3 linked regions of the Homo sapiens genome follow. The protein of the gene in region 1 interacts with the protein of each later gene in a biochemical or structural test. Each region holds a gene or a part of one and is shown on either strand. Other genes may lie near its edges.

Region 1 (11,888 bases):
TGCCTGGCTAATTTATTTTTAATTAAGAAAATTTTTTTAATAGAGATGGCATCTTGCTACATTGCCCAGGCTGGTCTAGAACTCCTGGGCTCAAGTGATCCTCCCACCTCGGCCTCCCTAAGTGCTGGGATTACGGGCATGAGCCACTGCACCTGGCCTATGGAGGCTTTGAAGGAGGAAAAACCTTGGCACTGTTAAGATGAAAAAAGCCGAAAGGGCAGGAGCATAGCGAGTGGGGCCAAGAGGCTTGTGATGAAGGCATCGTAGTCGGCAGGGCCCAGATCACACAGGCCCTTAAAGCAGTAGGAACTGCATGTTGAAGATGGTGATGTATTTGTGATACCTAGCCCGGTCCCAAACTAAGTGTGTAATACATGCTAATTCCTTCTCACCACCTCCTGGGTTTGAAAATGTATCAGGGTGTTTGGGAAAGAGAAAGAAGTTCCTAATGTCTGCAGCACATGAGACAGGTGTTGAGAGATGACCCTGGAAAGGTCAAATTAGGGCCAAATTATGAAAAGTTTTGGGCCAGGTGCAGTGGCTTATGCCTATAATCCTAGCACTTTGGGGGGCCTAAGCTAGGGAGCCCAGAAGTTCAAGACCAGCTTAGGTGACACAGCAAGACCCCATCTCTAGTTTTAAGAAACGTTTCATATTCCAGGCTAAATGTTTGGAGTTTGCCACATAGGCAGTAGGGAGCCATGGAAGGTGTCGCAGCAGGGGAGTAGCATGATCAGACAAATTATGCTAAGTTCAAGGGGAGATCACAGGGCTGGAGCAGTCATGGGAGTGTACCTTAAGCTGAACCTTGAAGGCTGAACAGGCACATGGAAGGCCACAGTGACTCTCCCCTGCTTCTTTTTCAGGTGGTTCCACGAGTGTTTGGGCGCATGGTGGGTAAAAGCCGGGAGGCGGTGGCTCAGGCCATGGTGCTGGAGATGTTTCGAGAGGAGGACTACTACAACGATGATGTTCTGGACCAGATGGGCGCCAGTATCCTGGGCGTGGAGGGCCCCCGGCGCCACCCAGATGAGCCCCCTGAGGATGAAGTCTTCGAGCTCTTCCCCATGTTCATGGGGGGGCTTCTCTCTGCCCACAACCGAGCTGTGCTAGCTCAGCTTGGCTGCCCCATCAAGAACCTGGATGCCCTGGAGAATGCCCAGGCCATCAAGAAGAAGCTGGGCAAGCTGGGCCGGCAGGTGCTGCCCCCATCAGAGCTCCTTGACCACCTCTTCTTCCACTATGAGTTCCAGAACCAGCGCTTCTCCGCTGAGGTGCTCAGCTCCCTGCGTCAGCTCAACCTGGCAGGTGTGCGCATGACACCAGTCAAGTGCACAGTGGTGGCAGCTGTGCTGGGCAGCGGAAGGCATGCCCTGGATGAGGTGAACTTGGCCTCCTGCCAGCTAGATCCTGCTGGGCTGCGCACACTCCTGCCTGTCTTCCTGCGTGCCCGGAAGCTGGGGTGAGGACCTATCCTCATGCACAGGCATGAAGAGGGAAGAGGGTTGGAGGTGAAGAAGTGGGAAAAGAAAGTGCCAGGGAAACCAGAGGTACCGATGAGTGACCAGAAGGTGGGATGAAGAAGTCTAGTTTAGGGGCCGGGAGCAGTGGCTCACACCTGTAATCCCAGCACTTTGGGAGCCCAAGGCGGGCGTATCACCTGAGGTCAGGAGTTCGAGACCAGCCTCAACATGGAGAAACCCTGTCTCTACTAAAAATACAAAATTAGCCAGGCATGGTGGTGCATGCCTGTAATCCCAGCTACTTGGGAGGCTGAGGCAGGAGAATTGCTTGAACCTGGGAGGCGGAGGTTGCGGTGAGCTGAGATCATGCCATCGCACTCCAGCCTGGGCAACAACAGCAAAACTCCGTCTCAAAAAAAAAAAAAAAAGTCTAGTTTGGGTGGAGGTGACAGGAGCAACAGAAGGGAGGAGCCAGGCATGGTGGCTCCTGCCTGTAATCCCACTGCTTTGGGAGGCCAAGGCAGAAGCATCACTTGAGCCTAATAGTCTGAGACCATCCTGGGCAACATAGCAAGACCCTGTCTCTACAAAAAATTAAAAAATTAGTCAGGTGTGGTGGCATGTAGCTATCATCCCAGCTACTCGGGAGGCTGAGGTGGGAGGATTGCTTGAGCCCAGGAGTCTGAGGCTGCAGTGAGTTGTGATCATGCCATTGTGCTCCAACCTGGGCAACAGAGTGAGACCCTGTCTCTCAAAAAAGGGGAAGCAGGTATAGATTCCCAGAGGCAGGCTGATGAAAAAAAGGCATGGTAGATGGACAGACTGCCTGCTGAATTCCCTCCCTGGTCTCTCACCTCCCCTCTGGCCACCTTCTGCTCCAGCTTGCAACTCAACAGCCTGGGCCCTGAGGCCTGCAAGGACCTCCGAGACCTGTTGCTGCATGACCAGTGCCAAATTACCACACTGCGGTGAGTGACCTGGGAGTGGGGCATCCTGGTGGCCAGCTAAGGTCAAGGGTGAGCTCCCTGCTTCCTGACATACTTGGCACAGACCCACCCAAGGGATAGTAAATGGAGGAGAGTCTAGGCCCTGACCTGTCCCCTCCACTTCCCCCAGGTCCACTGCAAGCAGCAGGGCAGCAGGGAAACATGCCACCTGTAATGGGTGCTAAGAAACCTCTCACGTGGCTAAAATCAGCCTGGGGGAGGTGGGGAGAGAGGGTGGAATAATACCTAGGCCGGTTGCCTGGTAACAGTGCCACTGATCCCCTCCCAGGATTTTTCTTGCAGCCTCCCGAGGAGGACCCTAATGCTGGGCACTCAGTAGACACCCCTTAAGTGTTGACTGATATGTGGGGAACCTGAGCTCCTGGGTTCCCAGTTTCTGATTGGTGTAAGGGGAGGCAAATGAGGAGAGAAAAAGGAAGAGCAGGGAGAAGGATAGGGGAGTCAGAGGGGAGGGAGAAGCAGAGGCTGTGGAGGGGGTGAAAAAGGCAGAAAAAGGGAAACGGAAATGGTGAAAAGGAAGGGAATAGATAAGAAGGGAGTCAGGGGAAGAGGGAAGGAAAGGCCAGCTCCCCTACTCTGACTCCTCTGCCAGGCGCCACACCCCCTATTGCTCCAGCCTTTCTCCTGGGCCTGCATTTCTATGTCCAGGTTCCTCTTGCCCCATGCAGGGCCCTCTTTGGCCCAAGTCCTGACACCCAGCACAGGGCTGCCCCATTAAGGCTGCCAGTACCACCCCCAACCTTGCCTCCCCCTCCTCTCAATGAGCCCTCATAACCTTGGGTTGCACGTGGCTGTAGGCTGTCCAACAACCCGCTGACGGCGGCAGGTGTTGCCGTGCTAATGGAGGGGCTGGCAGGAAACACCTCAGTGACGCACCTGTCCCTGCTGCACACGGGCCTTGGGGACGAAGGCCTGGAGCTGCTGGCTGCCCAGCTGGACCGCAACCGGCAGCTGCAGGAGCTGAACGTGGCGTACAACGGTGCTGGTGACACAGCGGCCCTGGCCCTGGCCAGAGCTGCCCGGGAGCACCCTTCCCTGGAACTGCTACAGTGAGTCCTGTCCCTGGTCCCATTGCCCCCAGCCCTTCAGACTACTTCCCTCTCTCAACTGTGCTCCTCCAATCCTAGGGAGTGCTTCTGGGCCTGGGCCTGGTGCCTGTCCTTTATTCCTGGTTTCTGACTGATCCTTGTCAACCTAGCTCTGAGCCAACCCACCCCCTCTGTGACTGGCGCTTAAACTGCACCAATTCCCTACCACCATTTCTCCTAAAGCCCTACTGTCTCTGGTCCCACTGAATTCTAGTATCAGGGTCGGCTGTGGTGGCTCACGTCTGTAATCCCAGCACTTCGGGGGGCCAAGGCGGGCACATCACCTGAGGTCAGGAGTTCAAGACCAGTCTGGCCAACATGGTGAAACCCCGTTTCTACTAAAAATACAAAAATTATCTGGGTGTGGTGGTGCGCACCTGTAATCCCAGCTACTTGGGAGGCTGAGGCAGGAGAATCACCTGAACCCGGCAGGTGGAGGTTGCAGTAAGCCGAGATCATGCCACTGCACTCCAGCCTGGGTGACAGAGCAAGACTCCATCTCAAAAAAAACAAAAACAAAAACAAAAACAAAAACAAAAAAAAAAAAGAATTTTAGTATTAGTCCCTGCCTCCCACTGGCCAGCAGCCTCCACCTCTGGCTCATTGCAGTTACCTGATCGCACTCTGCAGCCAGGAGATGAGTTGTGAGGCCCCCTGACTTTCCATCCATCTACCCTCGGGCCCTCCTTCTCAGAGCTCTACTGAATGGCATCGACTTTCTCTCTCCTGCCAGCCTCTACTTCAATGAGCTGAGCTCAGAGGGCCGCCAGGTCTTGCGAGACTTGGGGGGTGCTGCTGAAGGTGGTGCCCGGGTGGTGGTGTCACTGACAGAGGGGACGGCGGTGTCAGAATACTGGTCAGTGATCCTCAGTGAAGTCCAGCGGAACCTCAATAGCTGGGATCGGGCCCGGGTTCAGCGACACCTTGAGCTCCTACTGCGGGATCTGGAAGATAGCCGGGGTGCCACCCTTAATCCTTGGCGCAAGGCCCAGCTGCTGCGAGTGGAGGGCGAGGTCAGGGCCCTCCTGGAGCAGCTGGGAAGCTCTGGAAGCTGAGACACTGGCGGCAGGCACCTAGCTATGTGACCACTGGCCCTAAACCTTTTCCCTCTGTGGCCTCCTGGCTTGCACTGCTCCCTCTAGAAAGATTCCTTCAGGTCTGGAGGCAGAGGAATGGGCATAGCTGAGCCAGTTGCCCTCCTAGGGCATGTTTGACCAGGACTGAGTCTGGAATCTCCAAGTTAAAGATGGTGAATCAATGCTTCGGGCTTGGAGATGGAACATGCCTCCTCTCCATTCAGCTAGAAGGACCAAAGCATGTGGCATTTGGATGGCCAGAGTGCCCTGAAGCACCACTACCAACCTTGCCTCCCCCTCCTCTCAAAGAGCCTCTGACTGTGTCACCAAGGGGCTCACATCTTATGTCTGCCATGCCAGGGGTGTCGCCATCCAGATGTGTTGGAAGCTTCCCCTCCTGCCTTATGCTCACCTGTGGACACCGAGGATGCCCTCACATTGGTGCTTTCTCCTCATCCTCATGCCCCCTTTGCCACAATGGTATGATGGCTTGGTAGCCCCTCGAGGCAGATGCACCTGACTTGCTGCTATTAAAAAGCCGTGTGCCTTCTACCAATTGTGGCCTCTTCTTTACTGCCTGGTGCTTCCAAGAAAGGGCACTGTTCTTGGTCTTTCTGGTTAAACTACCAACCATGATCTATTGCAAGTGGTTCTTGGGCACTAGGTTCAGAGGCAGTGGAGGCTGGAAGGGCCCATGAACAAGATATTGGCATGGGGGTTGGCCATGCTGGGCTGTATTAGTCCAGTCTCACGCTGCTAATAAAGACATACCCAAGACAGGGTAAGTAATTTATAAAGGAGGCTGGGCATGGTGACTCACGCCCGTAATCCCAGCACTTTGGGAGGCCGAGGTGAGCGGATCACCTGAGGTCAGGAGTTTGAGACCAGCCTGACCGACATGGATAGACCTCGTCTCTACTAAAAATACAAAATTAGCTGGGTGTGATGGCACATGCTTGTAATCCCAGCTACTCGAGAGGCTGAAGCAAGAGTATTGCTTGAACCCAGGAGGTGGAGGTTGCCGTGAGCCGAGATAGTGCCACTGCACTCCAGCCTGGAGAACAAGAGTGAAACTCTGTCAAAAAAAAAATTTATAAACGAAAGAGGTTTAATTGACTCACAGTTCCACATAGCTGGGGAGGCCTCACAATCGTGGCAGAAGGCAAATGAGGAGCAAAGTCACATCTTACATAGCAGCAGGCAAGAGAGTGTGTGCCGGGGAACTCCCCTTTATAAAACCATCAAATCTCATGAGACTTATTCACTATCATGAAAACAGCACGGGAAAACCTGCCCCTGTGATTTAATTACCTCCCACCGGGTACCTCCCATGACACGAGGGAGTTATGGGAGCTGCAATTCAAGATGAGATTTGGGTAGGGACACAGCCAAACCATACTATGGGCCATAGAATTATCACCCTTTTCACACTTACCCCCCAGGCTTGGAGTTAGTGACCAGCAATCTGCCTTTCTCTGCACAGAGGGGCAACTGGGTCAGATTCAGGGTCTCCAGAAAAAGTTGGGGCCCAGGGATAGATTCAGGAGGAACCCACACAGTTTTCCAGAGGATAAGACTCTCAGCGGGGCACGGTGGCTGACGCCTGTAATCCCAGCACTTTGGGAGGCCGATGAGGGCAGATCACCTGAGGTGGGGAGTTTGAGACCAGCCTGACTAATATGGAGAAACCCCATCTCTACTAAAAATACAAAATTAGCCAGGTGTGGTGGTGCATGCCTGTAATCCCAGCTACTCGGGAGGCTGAGGCAGGAGAATTGCTTGAACCTGGGAGGCAGAGGTTATGATGAGCCAAGATCATGCCATTGCACTCCAGCCTGGGCAACAAGAGCTAAACTCGGTCTCAAAAAAAAAAAAAAAAAAAAAAAAAAAAAAAGACTCTCACTCCCGTTAACCATTACCCCACTGCTTCCACAGCGTCTTCAAGGAGGCGGGACCTGGGAGGGGATGGGTGGGAGGATCAGTGGCTGTGATGAACCTTGTCCCTACCCCGGGCACTGGGTTGCTGATCCAGCTATGGAGAAAGCCGCAGGTAGGAGGCCAGGAGAAATCCTCTGCAGGGGACTTTGGGACAGGCAGGGGGCCGACTTGGAGGCTGAAGCTTTGGGACCAGGGCACACTTGATTTTGGGGCTTGGAGCCCTGAGGCAGGTAAACAAGTCAGGAGAAAAGTAATGAGTTGATATGTCTGTCTTCCTGGTCCACACCCTGTACTGATATGCTCAGATTTATGTGCCAAGGACTTGGGGGGAGAGAAAGGGAGGGGACCGCACAATAGTCCTGTGTGTATGGCAGTGAGAAGAGAAGACCCCTTTGGAGCAGAAAGGAGGGGGCATGCCCTGAGTTTGGGGGTTTCCCTGAGTCCTTTTAGTTTATGCCAATGGAAGAGGCACATCTGGGGAGAAGAATGTGACTCTCCTCCTCTCACCCACTTCTTTGCCCAGTAGATCTGCAGGACACAGCCTCGTTAACTCTGTAAGTGCCACGAGGGTTGGGGCAAGGGGAGGAAATAATTGGAGGCAGCGAAGCGCTTCACTGCCATTAGCACCTAAAGGAGATCCTGGGACCCAAGTCCAGCTGCCAGCTTGTACCTGCTTCCCCTGCCTCCTTGCAGGAAGTTTAAGTTTAACCCAAAGCTGGGCATTGATAATCCTGTCCTCTCCCTGGCCGAAGACCACGACCCCTATGGTAACTCCCTCACCCCCTGGCAACCATTCCCTATCCCTGGAGGCACCACGGCTCCACACGGCCTCCGATCTCCTTGGTAACCACTCACTCGGTCTCCCTCTGATAACAGCCTTGGTTGGGAGTAGAGATAGGAGGGGCCGGGTGTTTTCTCCTGTCCCAGTCCCTCTGCCCACGAACCCCACCACCCAACACCCAACCAGGCAGAAACTGCCCAGCACCCTATCAGGACACAGGGTCTGCCAGGCACACGGCGAACCTGTACTTGGGCTGTGCCCTCTCCTCCCCCTTTTCTGCTGCCCACCTCACCCTCCAGATCCCTGGAGCCTGGAGCGGCCTCGCTTCTGTTTACTGAGCAAAGAGGAGGGCAAGAGTTTTGGCTTCCACCTGCAGCAGGAGCTGGGCAGGGCTGGGCATGTGGTGTGCAGGGTGGACCCAGGCACCTCTGCCCAGCGCCAGGGTCTTCAGGAAGGAGACAGGATCCTGGCGGTGAACAATGATGTTGTGGAACACGAAGACTATGCGGTGGTAAGGCTGTGGTCCAGGAGAGCATGCTAGCACCTCAGAAAGAGAAGCGGGTTGCTCAGTCCCCTGGGCAGTATGGCAGCAGGGCACAAGCCTCACTCCCCCACACCCCAGGATTTAGAAGTGCCCAAGTCAGAGGGGTAGGGAAAGCATCTAGAAAGCCGATTCCCGCTGGGCGCAGTGGCTCACGCCTGTAATCCCAGCACTTTGGGAGGCCAAGGCAGGTGGATCACCCAAGGTCAGGAGTTCAAGACCAGCCTGGCCAACATGGCAAGACCCTGTCTCTACTAAAAATACAGAAATTAGCTGGGCGTGGTGGCAGGCGCCTGTAATCCCAGCTACTCGGGAGGGCTGAGGCAGGAGAATCACTTGAACATGGGAGGCGGAGGTTGCGGTGAGCTGAGATCGCACCATTGCACTCCAACCTGGGCGACAAGAGCAAAACTCCATCTCAAAAAAAAAAAAAAAAAAGAAAAAGAAAAAAAGCCGATTCCCTTGGCAAAAAAATGTGGATTCCAGGGAGGTCCTGGGGGTTGGCAAGAGGGTCTAGACCAAACCCACGCCCACGTGCCCTCTGTCCAGGTGGTACGCCGCATCCGGGCCAGCAGCCCTCGGGTGTTGCTGACAGTATTGGCACGGCATGCACATGACGTGGCCCGAGCTCAGCTGGGAGAAGATGCCCACCTCTGTCCCACCCTAGGCCCAGGGGTCCGGCCCCGGCTGTGCCACATAGTGAAAGATGAGGGTGGTTTTGGCTTCAGTGTCACCCATGGTGAGCCCAGAGGGTGCGAGGGGGCGGCAAGGATGAGGGATCTCAGCCCCTGTTCAGGGCAGGCAGGAAACAGACTGGACCTTGCTTTTTTTTTTAATTTCTAGGCAATCAGGGTCCTTTCTGGTTGGTGCTAAGTACTGGAGGAGCAGCTGAGCGGGCAGGGGTGCCCCCCGGGGCCCGGCTGCTGGAAGTGAATGGGGTCAGTGTGGAGAAGTTCACTCACAACCAACTCACCAGGAAGGTGTGACTGCCTGTCTCCCACTCTCCTCCCCCAATCCGGGCCTGGGCCCCACCTCGGGAAGACGCCTCCTTCCCCATGCGCCTAACCTCCTTATCTGGTCTCCTACCTTTATCACCATCCTCCCCCTCTACAGTTTGTGCCAGGCTCCACTTAGTGCCTGGGAGGAGGGGCTGTGGGGGGAGCATACCTCTTCTCTCCCTGCCCAGGTGTTATACTGATGCCCTGCTGGGTCCCCACAGCTTTGGCAGAGTGGACAGCAGGTGACCTTGCTGGTGGCAGGGCCAGAGGTGGAAGAACAGTGTCGCCAGCTGGGATTGCCCCTGGCTGCACCCCTGGCAGAGGGCTGGGCACTGCCCACCAAGCCCCGCTGCCTGCACCTGGAGAAAGGGCCCCAGGGTTTTGGGTTCCTGCTCCGGGAGGAAAAGGGCCTTGACGGTCGCCCTGGTGAGTGGGAGCCCTGGGGGCGGTGGGGGAAGGTGGGCCTTGGGGTGGGCACACAAGCGTATATACACCTTTCAGTGCACCGAAGAGGTGTCCCTGTCTGAGCTCTGGCCCTGGGCCGCCTCTTCCCGTTCACTCTGGGGTCAGTCCCCTGGTGTGTACACAGTGGCCTAGGATAGCTGGAGAGGAGCAGTGAGGATGTCTATGCCCCAGGACAGTTCCTGTGGGAGGTGGACCCGGGACTGCCAGCCAAGAAGGCTGGGATGCAGGCTGGGGACCGGCTGGTGGCTGTGGCTGGGGAGAGCGTGGAGGGGCTGGGCCATGAGGAGACAGTGTCCAGGATCCAGGGGCAGGGCTCCTGTGTCTCCCTCACTGTCGTCGACCCTGAGGCGGACCGCTTCTTCAGCATGGTGCGTGCTGAGGGGCAGGGGCTAGGGTTGGGGCAGGAGTGGGGCAGGGCTGAGGTCCGAAAGATTTGCTCTCCCTGCCACCTTCCAGGTTCGCCTGTCCCCACTCCTCTTCTTGGAGAACACAGAGGCTCCCGCCTCGCCCCGGGGCAGCAGCTCAGCCTCACTGGTTGAGACAGAGGACCCTTCACTTGAAGACACAAGCGTGCCTTCTGTCCCTCTTGGCTCCCGACAGTGCTTCCTGTACCCTGGGCCTGGTGGCAGCTATGGCTTCCGACTCAGTTGTGTGGCCAGTGGGCCTCGTCTCTTCATCTCCCAGGTGACTGATGCCCCATGGATCTTGAATCCCTTCGATCCTTTGCTGCCTGATCGGTCTTCCTCTGCTTCCCTCCCAGAGCCTAAAGCCAGCAAACTTTCCCCCGGTGTCCCCTGTTCTGCATGCCCCCACAACACCAGGTGACTCCAGGAGGCTCAGCTGCCCGGGCTGGGCTGCAAGTGGGAGACGTGATTCTGGAAGTGAACGGGTATCCTGTTGGGGGACAGAATGACCTGGAGAGGCTTCAGCAGCTGCCTGAGGCTGAGCCACCCCTCTGCCTGAAGCTGGCAGCCAGGTCTCTGCGGGGCTTGGAAGCCTGGATTCCCCCTGGGGCTGCAGAGGTGAGGAAGAAGAAACAGATGGGACTGTGAGTAGCTACAGAGGGCAGGGAGGAGTGAGAAAGAAGGGCAGAGTGGGCGAGGTACAAGGTGAAGCCGTGTGGGGTATGCAGGTTGGGACTTCAGGTCGTGGTAGGTGGGGACAGAAGGACTCGTGAAATAAACCCCATTTCTGGGCATTCCAGTGCAGGGCGGGGCAAGAAAAAGGAACTCTTCTGGGTCCCACCTGGAATGACCTTCTACCTCCTCTCTCTGTATAGGACTGGGCTCTGGCCTCGGATCTACTGTAGAGCACCCCTGCTTGGTACAGACATACTCAGGGGCTACCGTGTCTTCACTCTCCAGCCTGAGGTGGTGAAGGCAGGATGCTCTCTCTAAGCCAGACCAGAGGGACTCAGACACCACCGATCACAGGCTGGCCCAGGTGCTCCCTCCCTTCCTGCAGGCCCACCTGCCAGCAGAGGGTGTGGTTGGAGGCCTCAGACAGGTCCCTGAAGGAGTCTGAGGCTCCAGAGGATGTCATATGGGAGTTTTAGAGAGCTGTGTCCCAAGGATGAAGGTGTGGCTGTGGGTCTGGCTAGGATTGAAGCCATCTGGACCTTTTCTAGATATGACTCCAGGACCCTTGAGTGTAATGCAAAAATTTGGAGACCAGCTATGCCTGCCCTCTGTGGGTGCCTTAGCATTGCGGGAGGGTGGTGCTTGGTCACCGTTGCATTTGTTATAGAAATGGCCATTCGCCATAAATCTGACTGCCTGTGTTTGTGTTGGTGGGGGTAAGGGGCAGTGGTGTGAAGGGACCAAAAGGGCCTCAGGCTCAAGGGGTGGGATGCGGCTCCTGCAGGAGAGAGGTTGAGACCTGGTCAAATTTATTTCCTATCAATCACTGAATCTCAGGGATAATGGGTCAACCCAGAACTGAGATGTCTGTATGACAGCCACTCCTAAAAATAAACAACAACAAAAACAAAAAAAGAAGAAAACTAAATAAAAATAAAAATAAAAATAAGATCCACTTCTCTCTGCCAAACGGCCAGAGCCCACAGCTCTATTGAGTTCTACATCAAGACACTTTATTGCTGGGGCCTCAGAGAACACTAGAGACTAGGGGCTGGTGGCCTCAAAGATCCAGGGGGGGTGAGTCCAAACTGGCGTTGCTGCTCCTTGTGCCTGGCGTGAAGTCTCAGTGCTGCCCCATCCCACTGCTGCTTGATGGCTCTCAGCTTGGCCAAGAGCCTGTCCAGACTGTCCTGCAGACATCAATATTTCAGACCCCAGAAAGAGAGAGAGGGAAGGAGTGAGTGCTGCCCCAGGTTGGTTCATAAGCTTTCCTTGCCCAGTAGACATGGTCGTATCCCCTCTGTCTGCCCTCAGGATAGAGCAGGGCTCCCTTGGAGACGCTCCTTCTCCTTAACCCTGGGTTGTCAGTCATCATACGAGCTGGGGTTTGTGGGCATGGGGGAGTCCTGGGTACTGGGATGGCTGGGATCCAGGGGGTGGTGCTTACGTGTA
Region 2 (8,420 bases), on another chromosome or scaffold:
TGAGCCGAGATTGCACCACTGCACTCCAGCCTGGGCAACAGAGCAAGACTCCGTCTAAAAAAAAAAAATCAACTCTTGAAAACCTTTGTTATTGGCCGGGTGCAGTGGCTCACGCCTGTAATCCCAGCACTTTGGGAGGCTGAGGCCGGTGGATCACGAGGTCAGGAGTTCAAGACCAGCCTGGCCAAGATGGTGAAACCCCGTCTCACTAAAAATACAAAAAATTAACTGGGTGTGGTGGCAGGCGCCTGTAATCTCAGCTACTCAGGAGGCTGAGGCAGAGAATTGCTTGAACCCGGGAGGCGGAGGTTGTAGTGAGCTGAGATCACACCACTGCACTCCAGCCTGGGAGACAGAGCAAGACTCCATCTCAAAACAAACAAACAAACAAACAAAAAACCTTTGTTATTAAGTGTACTCCTCATATGACATTACACAATGTGAGCTTACACATCCCACAGAAAGCAGAGGCTCCCAGCTGTGCACAATCAGGATGAAAATAGTCTGGCTGCCTGGTCCAATCCTAGAGTCTGATTTAATTGTTTGAGGCTAGACTGGACATAGGGAGTTTTAAAGGATCCCCACGAGGCTGTTAAGGGCATCGCAGTTAAAGAACCACTGATCTAAAGAGCATGCGGATGACAGGGAACGTGACATCTGTAAAATCCGTAGGCACTGTTGAAACACCTGAAATCAACAAAAGACTCTCTTGGCTTTCACAGTTATTTTTAACCTTTCCAAAACATTTTTATATAATTGACAGTTCACTTCTGGCCTTCAGTGTATGTTTGCCTGTCCATTAATAAGTTGATCTGGCATTTTTCCTGTAACATTTTTGTTTTTCCTTCCACACACTGAAGTTCTGCCCTCAGCCAAAGCCCACTGCTCATGGACAGGTCTTGCTCCTGCCCCAGGGGCCTCAGTGGTGGTAGGCAGGGAATAGGCCGTTGGCAAGTTGAAGCTCAGGAAGGAAGGGAGGGCTCAGTAACTGATTCAGGGGCCAGCCACTCTGGCTTCACCTGGGAGCTTGTTACATGTGCAGAATCTCAGGGCGTAGACCTACTCATCAGAATCCGCACTTTAGCAAGATTCCCAGGTGATTTGTGTGCACATTACACTTGAGAAGCACTGCCTAGAGTGTTGTGATTAACTAGGCTGCAAGCTAAAATCACCCAGGAAGCTTTAAAGCTCCCAACGCCTAAACTGTAGCCCAGACCAACTGAATCGGGGACCCAGGTGATTTTAGTGTGTAGCCCCAGGGAACAAGCCCTGGTAGAGAACATCGTCAGTTTACTTTCCCTCCACAACAGATCTAGCAACTAGCAGGACTCAAGTAGGTCTTTAGGCCAGTGTAAAAGATCATTCAAACATTCAGTCAGCAAAAATGTAATAACACCGGCCGGGCGCAGTGGCTCATGCCTGTAATCCCAGCACTTTGGGAGGCCGAGGCAGCCGGATCACCTGAGGTCGGGAGCTCGAGACCAGCCTGACCAACGTGGAGACACCCCATCTCTACTAAACATACAAAATTAGTGGGGCATGGTGGCACAGGCCTGTAATCCCAGCAGTAATCCCTCAGGAGGCTGAGGCAGGAGAATCGCTTGAACCCGGGTGGCGGAGGTTGTGGTGAGCTGAGATTGCGCCATTGCACTCCAGCCTGGGAGACAAGAGCGAAACTCCGTCTCGAAAATATATGTACACCTACTGTGTGCCAGGTACTGAAAATACAGAGGCAAACAGAGACACAACCCTGACTTCCTAGCATTTACAGCATAATGAAGACAGACCTCTGTCAGTAAATGCCAGTACAGTCTGTGCTACAGAGGGTACATTTGGGATGCTATGGTAGGGTACAATGGGAGGCCTTGACATTTCTGGTTTGTAAAAACAAAAATCATGCCATCTTTCTCCTGTCCAAGCTGAGAGATGCTTAAATGGTATTACCAATGCCTTGATTTCAGACCTGAGTTTCAAACCTGGCCTGGGGGACTAAAACTTACATTTCTCTGTTGAATGATGGGTAAGTTCAGCTTGGAGAGAGCAGCTGAAAGACAAAGTGGCGCCTCAGCAACAGTCTGTTACTCTAAAGTCCAAAGTCTACGTTACACTTTGGGCCAGGCAGGAGTTTGGTACAAGCTAAGTAAATAGTTTTTCAGTGTCTCTGATCTTACATTACAGGGGAAAACTGGAAGTTCATCTTGGGTGACTTCTCATCTCCTGCAGAAATTTTCTTACAGAGAATTACAGCACTTTGGCCACCCCCTGTTTAATATGTTCCCTAATGGCCACAGCAGGAAAGAGCAATTAGCAAATTCCTGAATATTTCCTTCACATCATTTCCCAAAGCTTCTTTATGTTAGGTAAGAGGTCCAGCCTTCATTACAGGCTTTTAGCAAATTAAAGCTATTTGCATTTTAGAAGCATATTTGAATTCCACATACATTGCATCTCACACCAAGACATCACGTTCATTAGACAGCTTCATCTCTAATCAAAGCAGAAGGCCTTGAACAAATAATTAGCCTTGAGGCTAGAATTACACATTAAAATAATAAATTGATTTGCTAAGGCCACAAAGAAATGCCACTGGGGCATTCTAGTGTTGCTCCACCCTATATTAATGGCTTCAGGTCAAATGCTGCTAACGTAAACTTGGTGACACTCATGTTGTTTTGGAAATGTTGATGTCACGGCAACCAAATACAAAGCATGGTTCCTGGGCCATTGTTATCCAAACTTGTTTAAGCATAAAAATGGCCTGGGGTGCTTAGTAAAAAGGCACCTTCCTAGGCTCCTGCCCGCTCTGATTGAGCAAAGCAAGGGCCCAGAAATATGACTTTTTAATTAAGTACTTGGGGTGGGTCTTCAATTGGGAAAGTTTGAAAAACGATGCTCACAGCAGCAAGGTACAGCTAGTTGAAGAGGCCCAAACATTCCAGGGGAATTTTGGAGGGGGGGTTTTGAAAGTCTGATCTGGAACATGAAAATGGTCCCCCTGCCCTGCGTCTTTCCTTGGTCTTTAGGAGCTAACACATGGTTGCTTCTATTGGCTGCAGCATAGGCCAGAGGCAGCTGCTGTGCCTGGGCAGGGCTCTGCTTCGGAAATCCAAGATCCTGGTCCTGGATGAGGCCACTGCTGCGGTGGATCTAGAGACAGACAACCTCATTCAGACGACCATCCAAAACGAGTTCGCCCACTGCACAGTGATCACCATCGCCCACAGGCTGCACACCATCATGGACAGTGACAAGTGAGTGTAGGGGGACAGGGCTTGACACGGATGGCTTAACCCTTGCTCAACAGTAACAGTGTCAGCCGGGAAACACCTGATGGCAGAAGGTTTAACCACCACCACATTACTGATGAAGAAACTGAGACTTAGAGATGTCAAGTAATCTGGCCAAAATTTTACATCACGCAAATGAAAACGAACAAGGTTAAGGGAACTATTCATATCTTGAGGGCAAAATAGGAAACTGTGTGTTGTAACAATTAACTGGGTATGGGGAGGTGGAAGCTCAAGCCGTGAGAGGCAGATGTTGACCATAGACCTTCCTAACTGTCCTGAGCCTCAGCTGCTGCTCTGTAAAACAGCCAGAAGCTTTCTATTCCTTCCAGCTGTGTCATATTACAATCAAAAGTCAGTAATCTTAGAAAGCTGTTTGGAGATGATAGGCACCCTTTGTAAACCAATCTATCCTTAAACAATGTGCACTTCTTTTAAAAACTCATGTAAATGGACTCATACTGCCTGTATTCTTCTATTACTTGATTCTTTTGTTCAATATTATTTGCAGAATTCATCCATGTTGATGTGTGTAGCTGTGGCTCATTGATTTTCACTGCTTTGTAGCCTTGTCTGACTATACCACAACTTAGTCCTGGTTATTCTTATAAATGCCTAGACTTGAGATGCTGCTTTCTAAGACTTTTATTTCTTTCTTCCTTGTTTCAGGGTAATGGTCCTAGACAACGGGAAGATTATAGAGTGCGGCAGCCCTGAAGAACTGCTACAAATCCCTGGACCCTTTTACTTTATGGCTAAGGAAGCTGGCATTGAGAATGTGAACAGCACAAAATTCTAGCAGAAGGCCCCATGGGTTAGAAAAGGACTATAAGAATAATTTCTTATTTAATTTTATTTTTTATAAAATACAGAATACATACAAAAGTGTGTATAAAATGTACGTTTTAAAAAAGGATAAGTGAACACCCATGAACCTACTACCCAGGTTAAGAAAATAAATGTCACCAGGTACTTGAGAAACCCCTCGATTGTCTACCTCGATCGTACTTCCTTGCTACCCACCCCTCCCAGGGACAACCACTGTCCTGAATTTCACGATAATTATTCCTTTGCCTTTCATTTCTGTTTTATCACCTTTGTATGTATCTTTAAACAACATATACCCTTTTTTACTTATGTAAATGGACTGACTCATACTGCATACATCTTCTATGACTTGATTCTTTTGTTCAATATTATATCTGAGATTCATCCATGGTGATGCAAATAGGTGCATTATTTTTTTTCACTGCTCTGTAGTCTGGCATTGTATGAATACAGCACAATGTATCAGTTTTAATATTGGGGATCATTAGCATTATTCTCAGGTTTTTAAAAATTATAAGCAGTACTACTATGGACATTCTGGTCTACATCTCCTGGCACATATGTAAGAGTTTCTCTAGGGTATAACCTAGGAATGGAGGGTATGAACATGTTTACATGCACAAACTAGCTGATGCCAAACTGGTAATGCCAACTGAAAACATTGCTGTCAATCTGATGAATATGAATTGATGTATCAATGAGAATTTCATTTGCATTTCCCTAGTATCTATTGGGGATGAATATATTTTCATGTTTCTGGGGCATTTGCATTTCCACTTGTTTTTTAAATATTGTGTCTGATAATTCCAATGTCTGGATTCTTTGTTTATCTGTTGTTTCTGTTGGTTTTTACTCATGGTATTTTATTTCCTTGTATGTCTTGTGAATTTTTATTATAAGCTCGTTCTCCTTAAAACTTTATCTGTGGACATTCTTTGAGGCCTAAGTTGACCGTGAATTCTTCCTAAGGGAATTGGGAATGCTTTAGCCTGCTGCCTGGGGCATTACCCAGAACCTCTTTGAATGAAATTCTTCACTAAGGGGTTTCAAACCACAGTGCAACTTCAGACCACAATCCTGTACAAGAGCCAGCTTGTGATTTACAAATTCTCCAGGGAAAGTGACAGGTTGGAGATAGGCATGGGGTTTTGTTGTTGTTCTTGTTGACTCCTGCATTCTGCATGGCAGGACCTAGGCCTCTTTACCTGTACATTGCAGGTATAACCCTTTCATGACACAGGTTCATCAGAGGGTTTTAGTCTGCACTGTGGCAGACCTTGGCTTTATCTCTTGCCTTGACCTCCTACATTATCAACAAAGTGAGAGTTTAAGATCTCCTGGGCAGGAGATTTCAGAAGCCAGCCTAAGTTTTGGGCCTTCCTCACCTCCTAGGGCCTTTGTGTCAGGTTCTTTTGGGTTCTTCATATTCCTTACCTCCCTTTCAGTGATGTTATGATAAAGATTTTGATTTATTCAGCATTTCACGGTCTGTTTAGTGAGGTGCTTAACATTGAACTTCTGAAATGAAGGGCATATAGCTAGTGTAAGCATACCTCTGGTTTGCCCTGAATAGTTATGGGTTACATCTGTTTTCCCAAAACAATAATAGCTCCCCCTTTCACACACGCACAAAAATTGTCTCATTTGTATGATAAACTTGTGTGCCTCCTACACATAGCCCTGTGAATTCGATTTTGAATCACAGCATGGATGGAGATCAACAAAGTTGTATAGATATTGAAGTGTTGGCTGGGGGGGCGCTATTCATGGAGAATCCCCTCCTTAATTCTGCAAACCAGATCTAGTACATTGTGAATATTCTATAATCATTGGCTATTTTTTACAGCTAGCTTTTCAGATCTATACCTGCTTATGTACATGAAATGTAGCTCCTGTAAATTGCAGATTAGTGTATATTAATCTAAGATGCCATCAACTGTAAAATACCTGTTATTTTCTATACCACGAAGAAAGGATACTGCCAATTAAACTTTGGTATGCATTGTTGGTAAAATGCATCCTATTTGTGGAAAAAAATTAGCATTTTAAGATTAATACAATACAATACCTGTAAAGCTCTATAAGAGCTAAGTCATGTCCTTTATTTCTGCTATTGATCCTTGTTCTTTTTTCCTGATTGTTCCAGTCTGTATTGCTCTTTTAATCCAATATCATCGTCATCATCATCAGCATCATCATCATCATCATCACTTCCCTTATCTCTTTTTCTCAACTATTTCACTGCTAGGTAGCTAACTACTGTTTTTACCATCTATTCTTTCTAATCATTAGAATTTCAAAAAACTGCTTTTTCCTTTTTTTTAGTGGTGTTTTTAAAATTTATTTATTTATTTTTTAGTGTTTATTTTGAAAGCACATTCCATACACGCGTACTTTCCAACTTGCTTCTTAAATGAGTTTTTAGATATAGAGCATTTAGAGGGGCAGGAGGAACTTTGGAAAACAAAGGAACTATTTACGCTGACTGCAGAAGCCAGAGAAATGCAAGCTAGGTAAAGCACCAACAGTAAAAGTGAAACTAAAGGAGAAGCCTGATATTTTCTCAATTTGTTTCTCAAACAAAATGGTCCAGGCTGATGTCGATATAGTTATCACCAGAGAACTTTGAAGATTATCAGCCATCACTTATTTATTTAGCTTCCAGTAAATGTCTGACACTGTGCCAAAAATTTTTTAAAAGCTATCTAGGGCGGGTGCTGTGGCTCACACCTGTAATCCCAGCACTTTGGGAGGCTGAGGTGGGTGGATCACCTGAGGTCAGGAGTTCGAGACCAGCCTGGCCAACATGATGAAACCCCGTCTCTACTAAAAATACAAAAATTAGCCAAGCATGGTGGCACATGCCTGTAATCACAGCTACTCTGGAGGCTGAGGCAGGAAAATCACTTGAACCCGGGAGGCGGAGGTTGTAGTGAGCCGGGATCACGCCATTGCACTCCAGCCTGAGCAACAGAGCAAGACTCCATCTCAAAAAAAAAAAACAAAAACAAAAGCTACCTAATATAAACTAAATAAAGATTACTTTCCATTGTGGCCTAATTAATAACCCTTTCACAAGCTTTATTTCACTTACCGATTTCAGGGACAATTTTAGATAACTACCTAAAACCTATACATTCCCAAATTCCACCATATCTTCACTGTTTTTCACTGATCTTTTGGGCACTTTCTGTGCCCTTCCCAATTCTTCTGGGTGCATGGAATCATAGTGTTCAGAAGTAAAGGTGCCTATGCCCATCGTTAGGCTACTATCTCTCAGTTTCAAACCTACCCTTTTAGATTTTGCTCTGTGATGCTGGGACTTATAAGTCTCATTTCTGCTTTGCCAACTATTCCTATTAAGTTCTGACAATAGGAGGTGCTGGAGGGACACTGGACGCAGCCTGGATGAGGAAGAAAACGTGCTCCTTCTCGTTGGCTCTGTTGCTATTAGCATCACTCTAACAGTTTCTCTGCAGCAGCAGTTCTCACAAGTAGCCACATTGATTTTAGTTTGCAGTTTTTCAACATTCACAGAAAGTGTCGTCAGGCCCAAAACCAACACCAGCTGAGCAGCGTCCCCTTTTTCAGAAGCAATAAACAGACTGAAAGAAAACAAACTAATTTTACATTGATACATTGGCACAAACAGGAAGAATAAGTCTATAAAAATATAAAGAATAAACCTATAAGAATAAACCATCAGGCCTACATTTCTGGCAGAATAATTTTGCATAAGCACTTTTGGAAACATCCTCAGAATAAATTTGTCCTGTTTATATAATAGAATGAGAATACATTTAACCACAAATGCATACCGATCATGAATTTATTTTAGAATTAGCAAACAATATTGTACAAACATTGGTATTTAAATCTCTAAGCTCCTGCAACTTAGATTTAGTTAGCAAAGACTATATTCTACTCTGAGTTTGGTCTTCCACATGGACTAGACACTAGACTGGTTTTTTGAAAGGTTTCATATTGTTCGAAAATACCATAAGTAGGCCAGGCACAGTGACTCACACCTGCAATCCCAGCACTTTGGGAGGCCTAGGCAGGCCGGAATGCTTGAGCGCAGGAGTTCGAGACCAGCCTGAGCAACAAAGTAAGACCCCGTTTCTATAAATAAATAAAAAAAAATACAGAAAGTTAGCCAGGTGTAGTAGTGCATGCCTGTAGTCCCAGCTACTCAGGAGGCTGAAGTGGAAGGATCGCTTGAGCCCAGGAAGTCGAGGTTGCAGTGAGCTGAGATCACACCACTCCATTCCAGCCTGGGTGACAGAGTGGGACTCTGTCTCCAAA
Region 3 (10,965 bases), on another chromosome or scaffold:
CTAAGAAAGTGGACAGAATAGGTAGAAGCTCATACCCAGACTCAGGAAACTTTTAACTCATTCTTGTCTAATATATAGTATATTTTCTGCATAAACTATAAGTTAAGTATACTTTAATGCAGATAAGGCATTTAAAACATAATTTTGACAGTTAAAAATATCATGAATACAGAGCCAGTAAATAAAATGAAATAAATGAAATAACAAAATCTCCTCAAGTTCTAAATAGTCTGTTCATTCTTCCTCTTTTCCAGGTGGAAGCTCCCTCTTGGGATAAAGGATCCACAGTGGAAAAAAAAAAAGGTAGTTTTATACTGAGCCCCCACATCTGATTCAGGGAAGCAAGTCTGTGTTCCAGACAGGGAAGCCAAGGCTAAATACTTTTCTGTTTCATTGAGGTCTCAGGAAAATGCAGGGTTTCAGGATAATCCCCTTCTTGCAGTCTAGGAAGGGAGGTTTCTAAACCTTCTCATGTATAGTCCCTTACTTCTTATGCAATATATGCCACTTGTAAGGCATTTGCCAATTTAAATTGGCTGTAACTAACAAAGCCAAGATCTCTAATTTCCTCCCTGTCCCTGCCACACCCAGAAGCTTACACAGTAGGAGGGGTTGGCAGGTTGAATTTCTGGTCCTTCATCCCAGTCAGCCAGTAGGTAGTCTCATTTCCTCTTCCCTGGTAAGACAAAAGAGTTACGTACCACGGAGTCCAAGGAGTCAGTTCAGTTGTAGACCACTGTTTCCATAATGATCTGTTTCTGTGACATGTTTCACTTCCGCATTTCTCATCAGTGCCAATATTTAAGCACATCACACATTCCTGTTATGATTTGCATTATCTCTAGACAGATTTTTATTTCCAAGTGCCTTTTTAAAAATAAGTTTCTCATTCAGCAGACATCCTTTTCTCAAAGTAGAGTTTTCTTTTTTTTCCCCAAAAGACATTTTAAAATATCACTCTAGCAACATCACAAGAACTCTAACTTAAAAAGGAAGAAAATTCATCTACAATTCTGCTACGTCAACAAATCCAACTGGTTGTCATTGTCCATATTTCCTTCTAGCCCTTTTTGCAATAAAGTTTTGCTACAAAACTTTTGCTACAGTTTCCCTATCTTATTACAAACACATGTACATCACAATTAAGAACTCATTAAGTGGCATTTCTGGGGCCCATCTGGAGGCTACGGAATGTATGGAAATTTACTGGAATACTGGAAACCCTGTTTTTGCTAAAGCTGGTATTTGAAAAAGAGATACAAAATACATATGGCCCAAACACAGCCAGTGAACCACTATTTTTAAAAAATGAGTTTAATAATATATATCTATAATATATATCAATAATTTAAAAATGAGTGATTGATATATATATATATATAATTGATATATATTGTTAAACTCATTTAAAAAAGTAGTGGTTCACTGGCTGTGTTTGGACCATAGCAATCCATAAACTGGTTCTATTTTGGGGTAAGTGTTCTTTGTAAAAAATGTACTTATGGAGGACTCAAAAAGCAAGTGTGATGTTAGGACACTTTTACGTAAAAGGAGACTTTTCCAAGGTGCAATCCAAATGTAAAGGCCAGAAGCATTATGGCTACCGGAGACAGGTAACTTACAGTTAATAGCTGGCTTTGCCAGTTGTGAAAAGATTCCAATAACTTTGGAAAAGCAGCCTGAGAAGCATTTGGAGACAACTGATGGCTATGGAGGGCAGCTGTTTTAAATGTGAGGAACTGCATGAAGAATCTGGAATAGCGATTCTCAAATATTAGTGTGGTCACAAACACATTATCTTGTTAAAAATATAGATTTCTGATCTACGCCCACAGAGAATCTTGCATAGTAGGCCTGGTAGAGTGTCCACACATCTGCATTTTAACAAGCTTCCAGATGAGGAAGAGGAGGAGAATGGGGCCACACCTTGTCATTCACTCCTTGTGATTCTAGAGCTTCCGAATAGTAAAGCAACTGGCAAGAGAGGTGACCTCAGATCATAGCAGCAGTGTGTAGTAAGAGTAGGGAAGTAAGTGGGGGGACAAGGGTTTTGATTCAAATTAAATAAGTCCTGGACCAGACTGTATGTAGCTCTTGTGTTTGGAGGAGGAACTGGATACAAAACCTGGATATGGCAGAGGAAATGCTGGCAGAGTTCAAAATCTCAAAAGGGCTCTTTGGAGTAAAGGCAAGTTTTGAGTTCACATTTTTTGGTGGTCATTTCTCTTGCAGAGGATGGAGGGTGCTCATCGTGATGAGTACAGAAGAGGATTAGCATGCTCAACTTTCCTGGCCAAGTCTCAAAGGAGGTGGCCCAAGCGTGTCTGAGAGCTTTTCCTATGCATTGTCTCTGTGGACTCCTTACCTTTAAGTATGTTTCTCCTCTCACTTCATAAAGGAACTGGCACTCAGTTCTCTTCAGGATGGCTATGGTGGAGCCACTCACGTGAATTCTCAAAGCTGGAAATGCAAATTGACAAATAAAAATCCCAGCTAGTACACAGCCTATTTGTTTCCCGTTGATTCAGGATATCAACAACACCTGAGACAAGAATCCTAAATCAAGAAGAAACAATTGTGGCTATTTTAATGAAAGAACACTTAAAAATAACATCAGAGAGATAAGAAATGGTATAGTTTGGATATTTGTCCCCACCCAAATCTCATGTTGAATTTTAATCCCCAGTGCTGGAGTCCTGGCCCCCGACCAGGTGTCTGGGTCACAGGGGTGGATCCCTCATGGCTTGGTGCTGTCTTTGCGATACTGAGTTGTCACAAGATCTGGTCATTTAAAAAGGTGTGGCACCTGCCCCTGCCACTCTCTTTCTTACTCCTGCTTTTGCTGTATGAAGTGCCTGCTCCTGCTTTGTCTTCTGCCATGAGTGAAAGCTTCCTGAGGCCTCCCCAGAAGCAGATGCAGGTGCTATTCTTCCCTTACAGCCTGCAGAACCATGAGCCAATTAAACCTCTTTTCTTATAAATAACCCAGTCTCAGGTTTTTCTTTATAGCAATGCAAGAATGCCCTCACACAAGAAATATAATCTCACGTGGGAAGAAAGAAGGCCTGGCATCAGTTTTCAGGGCCCTGCGTGATGTGATGGGGATCCCTAGGTTTTTCTCCATAGATTCTCATTCCAGCTCAGAGTAGTAGCCTGCGGGACCTAGTTTTAGATTTGGCTTGTAGTGCCAAGCTTGGGTGTTGGAGTTTGGTTTTGGGTCCCTGTGGAAAAGTTCCAATAAATAGCTAAAGCCTTGTGGGCAAGGTGAAGATTCGGGAGAGTTGAGGGGTCTTGATTTTCTCAAATTTCCTTCTTCTGGAACATTGTTATCCTTTGACAAAAGAAGTGGTGAGGGCACGCCCATTCACAAGTCCATTGATGTGTATCACCTTTCCCAATATAGGGGCCTAATAGCAATACCACAAACAATTACACAGTAAGAATAATGACAATCCCAAATTGTATACCTACCATGTACCATGATTGCTAAACGCTTAACATGACATCATCCCAAATTATTTCAGAAACCCTCTTGGCACGGTTGGTATTCCATTTTCAATTTGTATCTTTATCTTTCTGAGGGCTAGAAGGATCAGGTAGCTTTCTACTCAACTTATACTGAGAATGATTAACATAATTTCAATTGTAACCCAAGTCTGTCTGACCCCAACCTTATCCTTTTCCTTGCCAGCATGATTTGCCAGGACAAACTAGTATCACATTGTCAGTACACTACCAAAATACCATCCTGCCTCCTGTGGTTTCGTAAGCCCCAGCCATGTCTCCCAGTGCTTATTTTCTCTCTTCTATATATTTCTACTGCTACCACTGTCATCAATATTTATTGAGCATCTACTTCATGCAGCACATTGTGCCTCTACCTTGCCAAGCAAATGCAATATATTCCTTCGTATATAACAAATGCTTAGATTTTTCTTTACTAAAATCAATTCTTGGTTGGGTATGATGGCTCTTGCCTGTAATTCCAACACTTTGGGGCTTTGGGGGACCAAGGCAGGAGACTTGCTTGAGCCCAGGAATCTGTGACCAGCCTAGACAACATAGAGAGACCACACCTCTACAGAAAAAATTAAAAAATTAGCTGTGCATGGTGGCATGCCTGTAGTCCCAGCTACTTAGGAGGCTGAGGTGGGAGGATCACTAGAGCTGAGGAGTTCAAGGATGCAGTGAGCTGTGATTGTGCCACTGTGCCAAAGCCTAGGCGACAGAGTGAGACCCCATCTCAAACAAATAAACAAAAATCAATTTCCAGAAAAAACGAATATGCTTTGGGAGGCCAAGGTGGAAGGACTCCTTGAGGTCAGGAGTTTGAGACCAGCCTGGGCAACATAGTGAGACCCAGTCTCTATTAAAAATTTAAAAATTATCTGGATGTGCTGGTATGTTCCTGTAGTCCCAGGTACTTGGGAGGATGAGGTGGGAGGATCACTTGAGCCCAGGAGTTCAAGTTTACAGGGAGCTATGATCGTGTCACTGCACTCCAGCCTGGGTGACAGAACGAGAGCCTGTCTCTAAAAAACAACAACAAAAAAGCAAAACCAAATAAGAGGGAAACAGGAATGTGAACCAGAGTGTGTAGTTCTTACCTTGCCTACTGATTTTTTTTTAACTTTCATGAATCTATGGTAAATGCCAGGACTATTCTAAGTAGAATATCCCCAGATTCATTGTATATGAGCCAAAAATATAGAAATAGTCTAAAACTGAGCAAAAGTGGAAGAATAAAATAATTATCAGTAAACAACAATGAAAGCAAATGTAGCAAAAGGTGGATTGACACGGGTTTGTGTTCAGCTAATGTGAAGAATTATTCTACATCTCACTGGCACTTTGTATCTCCTTATTGTGCATTTTATCTCACAGTTGCCCTCTGCTGGAAAACAGCATCTTTGTCCTCTGAGAAAAACAGTCTCCCTTCTTACGGAGGCCAGTGGATTCCATCCTAGAGGCTGTGTTGACCGTATCTCCAAATAGACAATAACGAGGCATCTTGATTCCCACAACTCCAGCAGCACAGGGACCTGAAATGAAGGACAGAAAGCAGGAAGTGGAGGCAATAGAAATTGCAGAGTAGAGTGAAGACAGGTAAGCCTCTCTGTATGGTCACAATCCTGAATACTTCCTGTCATGGAGAAGTAGCTGAGGATGTGAAATGTGAGCTGGGACTTTTGGTTTAAATGGATGAATCCAATGAAGCATCATTATTCAATGCATGCGATCATAAAGTATTTTGCTCTCGCAAAGAAAACGACATTTGTAGCAAATAGGAAGGCATTCAGAGATCCAGATCACAAAGGTGATTTTAAATAGAAGGCTCTCAGGAAGGATGAAGATGAGCCCCACTGCTTGCTTACTGTGCCAAACCACACAACCCTGAATTTCACACTGCTGGAGGGCACTGTAGATTTGAAGCTTCAATGGCTCAAGTTTGTTTTATTTTTATTTTAAGGTGGCATTTCTGGGATTGGTGCCATGACAATGGAAGACAGAAGACAAGACAAAGGCATAACTTTCCGTAAGCATTTCATGGACCAGGCGAATGCAGCTGGATGGGGAAGCCTGTGGCACAAGGAGGTTCCAACAAGCAGAACAAAAGCCCAGGCTAGACTATGCGCTGTGGCATATTAGGTAGGAAATAAGGGTTATTCAGTCATGTATTTGCATAGAATGACTGAGTGCAAGGTGTTAACAGTTTCAGAAGTTAAAGATTAACTCAAAAACTGCAAAGCTGAGTTTTAAGCAATGCCTGGCTAAAGATTCATCTAGATGACTTCTGAGTTCCTCTCTTACAGGTGTTTTTTCTATAACACCTGTAACTCATCTCAAACCTTGATGTTCAAGGCTGTTGAATTAAACTAAGTTTGGCCTGAGGCTGCCTCTTAGGGGTCCCTACAAAACAAACTGCAACCTAGCTTGGTACATAAACAAACTAAAAGCCTAACTAGGGTATACTTACGTTATAGATAGCTGAGTCTCAGCCAATCGCAGTAGCTGAGCTTCAGCCAGTCACAGGCTGTCAACTGATGGGACTTTGACCAAATCAGGGGAACACAGAGGTTTGACCAATCAAGTTGTTTCTGTCCCTCACTTCTGTTTTCTGTCTATAAACATTGCCCGCCCACCTTGCCCATTGAAGCTCTCTGAACCTCTTCTGGTTTTAAGGGCCATCTGATTTGAAAATTATTCTTTGCTCAATCAAACTGTGTTAAATTTAATATGCATAAGCTTTTCTTTTAACAAGGCTATGTAACTTTCATGGTCTTTGAAAGTGACTCATGTACTTTCTGTATAACTGCAGTGGCAGGGAAGGGAGGGGGTATAAATATTATAGAAATTTCACCATCTGTTCTTTATTTCCCCTTGTAGATAATCTAATCCACTTAAGATACTATAATATTTTAGTGGGAAAATATATTGAAGTTGGGGGTGGGGAGAAAGGGAATGGGGAGGAAATAAATGAAATCATAGGTATGGTGATTTAAATAGGAGTCCAAAGCTTCTTGTTTTCGTACATGTTTGGTGTTTATCATGTCAGCAGTCAGTGGTGCCCTCAAAGGTCTTGTTCTTAGAGTTCTCTAGGAACTGGGTCTAAATATCTCAGGATGCATAGTGGGACCTCACATTTGGCAAAAAGAATTAAGAGTAAAAATTATGTGAGGTCGATCACACTTGAAGACCTTTTATCCTTTCTGATTTAGTTGGTGCACAGCAGTACATATGGTTCCCAATTTGCTAAGATGCTCAACTCCATACCAGAGTGAACTCCAATGCGAATCCATATTGGGAGGCCAGGAAGATGCTCCAGCTCAAAGGTCCCCATGAAGCTGAGGATTTCCAAGGCCATCTTGGCAATGTCTATTGCATGCCGATTGCCATTTCTCTTAGGCAAACCACTAGCCACCATGTACGCATCACCGATGGTTTCCACCTGTGGAAACAGTTTCTCATGAGTGCCTCTGCCCCTTTGAAAAGTATAGAAAGTAAACAGAAGCAGTTAATCACATGTCAAACACAAAAAGTGATTTGGGAACACAGTATGAGCATAGCCCTTTACACTTTTTCTGGGGCCAGTTGGATCAGTTCTATGCTGATTTCTTCAGGGTTTTTATAGTCCAGTTAATGGGTGATAAAATAGCTATAAAGGAATTTAGCCATTTAAAAGTACTTCATAATTATATAAATTGTCCAGATGTGGTGACAGTTCTAGAAATGTTCAAATAAATAATCTGAATGGTTTTATGTAATTTGAGGAACACCCTTAGTTTCCTGAAAATTAATCCTTTAGCAAATGTCAACATACTATTTAACAGAATATTGTACTTTGTAATATGTAATTGTATACATTCTTGTAGTATGATTTTCTATTTATTATAACCCCAGTGTCTTCTCTGCTTCATTTGCAGTCAGCCTAAACACTGCCCATTTTTTGGAGGTGATTTAAGAGTATGCCATTTTGTCTAAATTTAATACTTCAAATTAATTCCTGCTGAACTTCCTGTTGTATCTTTTTTGCTGCTTCTTAAAGTTGAATGGTAATTTTGACTTCTCACTCCTCTAATCCTTCTACTTCTCTTCACTTTTAGCTCAGATTCAACCACCAATTCACTAAATGTGAAACTAGAGCGGTCAAGAGTAGTAACAGAAACAACCAATTCAGGCTCTGATGACCTTGAGTTGTACAATTAATGGTTTCAGCCTGTTAGGTGATGTGGTTACCTTGTAGACATCATGATGATCAACAATGTGGTCAAAACTCTTATAGATGTCATTAAGCATGTCCACCACTTCCATGGGGGTGCTGTATTTGCAGATAGTAGTGAAACCTACAATGTCACTGAAGTAGATTGTAACTTCCTCATATAGTTCCGGCTCCACAAAGCCTTTCTCCTTCAGAGACTTTACCACTAGCCTAGATGAACGAAGGGAAAAAAAATGCCTTCAACTTCAGCAAATTTCTTCTTGTTTCACATAAATCTTTCAGGTAGTAGTGATTGTCTACCAAGAATTCTAGAATTTGAGACTTCCAGTGAATTGAGTGAATCGGAAACAGAGGTTGTGTATATCATATACATGAACATATTACACAAATACACATATAATGCATGTTGTGAACACAGATGAATACAAGCAGGTTCAACATTAACTTAGTGTTTGATTATTAATCCTAATACACATAAATAGATAACTTTAATATCCTCAAAACTCTCATACATATACATACTTGTCCACTTTTTGCTTCTCTATTGATAATCAACCTCTTACAGATGTGGCTCTACATGCAGAAGCTGAGGAGAGTGTGGTATTACTTAAATCACCACAGGTATCAGATCTGAATTTCTCAACAAAGTTGATAGTTTTACTTTCCTGGCATATGTAATATGGCATTGCTTAATATTACTATGAAATAATGATGCATTTAAATATAAATTTTGATATATTCTGAACCAGAGTTCATTTGATATTTTGAACCAGATTTGGGTCCTTTGTAAAGCAGAATCAATCATGTAAATAAATTAAATCATGCTAAAACTGTAGAAGTCAAATTAAAGCAACTTTTAGAATATCTTTGCTGAATGAGGAGCAGCATATCAGATTCAAGATTGAAGGAAGAGAACCAGAAGAAGGGACTCCATACTTGGTGTGCCAAGTTACCTCTTCATTGAGAAAAGGAAGTGAGGGCTGACATGAAGTGGGATGGTCCCTGTCTGTCCTTGGCATCACTTTGTAGTGGCCCTCAGTATGGAACCACTAGAATCAGAAACTGGAAGCTGGGAGGTTCCACGGAAGTCATTGAAAAGAAATCTTTATTTTTACAGATGAGAAAGTTGAGGTCTAAAAAAGTATGACTTCCCTAAGTTCCCACAGCCGATTAGGGACAGAGCCAGGGCTAGAATTCAGGAAGCCTTCAGTCCCACCCATCAGTCTTTTTTTGCATTACACTCCCTGCACAACCCAGGCCTTGGATATTCAGGAAGATGGGGAAGATTTGGAGGTATGCTGACTGCAACAAAGGAGGTGGGCTCTCCCGGAAAGAAAACAACCAATCAACCACAAAGATTTCTAACACTCATTTGGAGAACCTCCAGAGTATCCGGAGAAACCTTTTTAATTGGTGCAATGACAAAACTTGGAACCTTTGAAAAACATTCCTTTGGTGTGGCTTGGATTCCTAGGTACACGACTGGAGTGGTTGTTCTTGACATGCCCTGTATAAAGTGCATAGTATTTTGGAGGCTGCATAGATGCAATGACAAAATTGGATATTCTGCCATATTTGCAATTCATTGTACTGCTTATATCTGAAAAGTCACATGAGTTTGGTGATATGGTTTGGCTCCGTGTCCCCACCCAAATCTCATGCTGAATTGTAATCCCCAATGTTAAGGGAGGGACCTGGTGGGAGGTGATGGGATCATGGGTGCAGATTTCCCCATTGCTGTTCCTGTGTTAGTGAGTTCTCATGAGATCTAGTTGTTTGAACGTGTGTGGCACCTCCCCCTTTGCTCTCTCTCTCTCTTCCTGCCATGCGAAGAAGGTGCTTGCTTCCCCTTCACTCTTCCACCATGGTTGTACATTTCCTGAGGCCTCCCCAGCCATGCTTCTTGAACACCCTGTGGAACTGTGAGTTATTTAAACCTCCTTTCCTCATAAATTACCTAGTCTCGGGTAGTTCTTTATAATAGGGTGAGAATGGACTATTACACTTGGAAAATAGTGTGTTATCCAGAGAGAGAAACTCATGTTGTAAATAAACGAAGGAAGGGCTGGGAGTTAACATGATGAGCTTTGATAACAGGTTGTTGCTGACATAGATAAAATTAGTATACAGAGTAGATCTCTTAGAAAGTCTTCCCAGAAGAAAAAACTTCTGGCCAGGCACAGTGGCTCACACCTGTAATCCCAGCACTTTGGGAGGCCGAGGTGGGTGAATCACCTGAGGTCAGGAGTTCGAGACCAGTCTGGCCAACATGGTGAAACCCCCTCTCTACTAAAAATGCAAAAATTAGCTGGGTGTGGTGGCAGGCGCCTGTAATCCCAGCTACTTGGGAGGCTGAGGCAGGAGAATTGCTTGAACCCAGGAGGCAGAGGTTGCAGTGAGCTGAGCTCATGTCGTTGCACTCCAGCCTGGGCAACAAGAGTGAAACTCCATCTCAAAAATAAATAAATTAATTAATTAAATAAAATAAAAATAAAAAAGAAGAAACTTCTATTTTAATGTATTTACCCCAAGGGGTACTATTCAAATAAATGTCTAAGTGATATCTGGTTCCTACATGCAATCTTAAGTTTATTTGCCCTTTGCTACACATATTTCTTTTTGATTCTTCTAGTTATTGCTCATGCATGTTTTAGTTTTATCTTGCGCATAAAATTTTTACATAAATAACCAAAGTGAGTTGTGCTGAAGCCATGGTGTATTGTAGCTCTTCAAGAGACTTGTGTGATATAACCTTTGGAAATCCAATAAAAACATCTACCAACTAGTAGTCCAAGTGGCATATTGAACTAAGGCTAGGAAAAAAGCTGAAATGGTGAGCCAGCTGATTCAAACCACTTGAGTGACATTAATGGTTAAAACCACCGCCAATGAAACCCTGGGAAGGCAGCCAGATAACCAGGATATTGTTTTTGTCACAACTCAGCATTAAAGATCAGGCAAGGAGTTATGCATTATGTACCTAATATTTATGGAGCTGTGATAGAAATTATCATCCTTGAAGTGAATATGAAGGGTTCCCTACTGTTCCCAGGCACTCTGAGGGCTCATGGGTTCTGCCCTTCTATCACAAGGTTGCAAGACACCACTTGCCAAATGTGTTCCAACTCCTTTCCCCCAAGCTGTGATCCGCCTCCTAGTTTTCTTGCAGGTGATTTGACTTTCAGAGGTTTGAGATTTTGAGGTCAGAGTTACTAAAGGAGATCAGGGGCTCCAGCTCGGGCTTC

What was found.
Region 2: the proteins of NHERF4 (region 1) and ABCC2 form a complex in vitro, tested with the Homo sapiens proteins (one study listed by BioGRID).
Region 3: the proteins of NHERF4 (region 1) and GUCY2C form a complex in vitro, tested with the Homo sapiens proteins (one study listed by BioGRID and IntAct).

What each region holds. Positions count from the first base shown.
Region 1 is NC_000011.10:119,178,827-119,190,714, forward strand, and holds NHERF4 (Na(+)/H(+) exchange regulatory cofactor NHE-RF4), read left to right. Parts: upstream 1-6,648; 5' UTR 6,649-6,668; coding exon 6,669-6,684; exon of another isoform or gene 6,685-6,802; intron 6,803-6,809; exon of another isoform or gene 6,810-7,095; coding exon of another isoform or gene 7,096-7,098; coding exon 7,099-7,126; intron 7,127-7,265; coding exon 7,266-7,339; coding exon of another isoform or gene 7,340-7,652; coding exon 7,653-7,864; intron 7,865-8,443; coding exon 8,444-8,633; intron 8,634-8,737; coding exon 8,738-8,874; intron 8,875-9,080; coding exon of another isoform or gene 9,081-9,092; exon of another isoform or gene 9,093-9,113; coding exon 9,114-9,318; intron 9,319-9,462; coding exon of another isoform or gene 9,463-9,494; exon of another isoform or gene 9,495-9,528; coding exon 9,529-9,725; intron 9,726-9,813; coding exon 9,814-10,041; intron 10,042-10,178; coding exon 10,179-10,379; intron 10,380-10,636; coding exon 10,637-10,666; 3' UTR 10,667-11,387; downstream 11,388-11,888. Other genes in the region: NLRX1 (NLR family member X1 isoform 1 precursor), read left to right, coding at 867-1,462, 2,345-2,431, 3,268-3,519, 4,292-4,613; DRC12 (dynein regulatory complex protein 12), read right to left, coding at 11,474-11,626, 11,884-11,888.
Region 2 is NC_000010.11:99,847,546-99,855,965, forward strand, and holds the end of ABCC2 (ATP-binding cassette sub-family C member 2), read left to right. Parts: intron 1-3,056; coding exon 3,057-3,251; intron 3,252-3,956; coding exon 3,957-4,086; 3' UTR 4,087-5,049; downstream 5,050-8,420. UniProt on the Homo sapiens protein: ATP-dependent transporter of the ATP-binding cassette (ABC) family that binds and hydrolyzes ATP to enable active transport of various substrates including many drugs, toxicants and endogenous compound across cell membranes.
Region 3 is NC_000012.12:14,614,268-14,625,232, forward strand, and holds part of GUCY2C (guanylyl cyclase C precursor), read right to left. Parts: intron 7,931-10,965; coding exon 7,738-7,930; intron 6,950-7,737; coding exon 6,775-6,949; intron 5,489-6,774; exon of another isoform or gene 5,471-5,488; intron 5,107-5,470; exon of another isoform or gene 5,043-5,106; coding exon 4,944-5,042; exon of another isoform or gene 4,885-4,943; intron 2,461-4,884; coding exon 2,366-2,460; intron 677-2,365; coding exon 600-676; intron 304-599; exon of another isoform or gene 255-303; intron 1-254.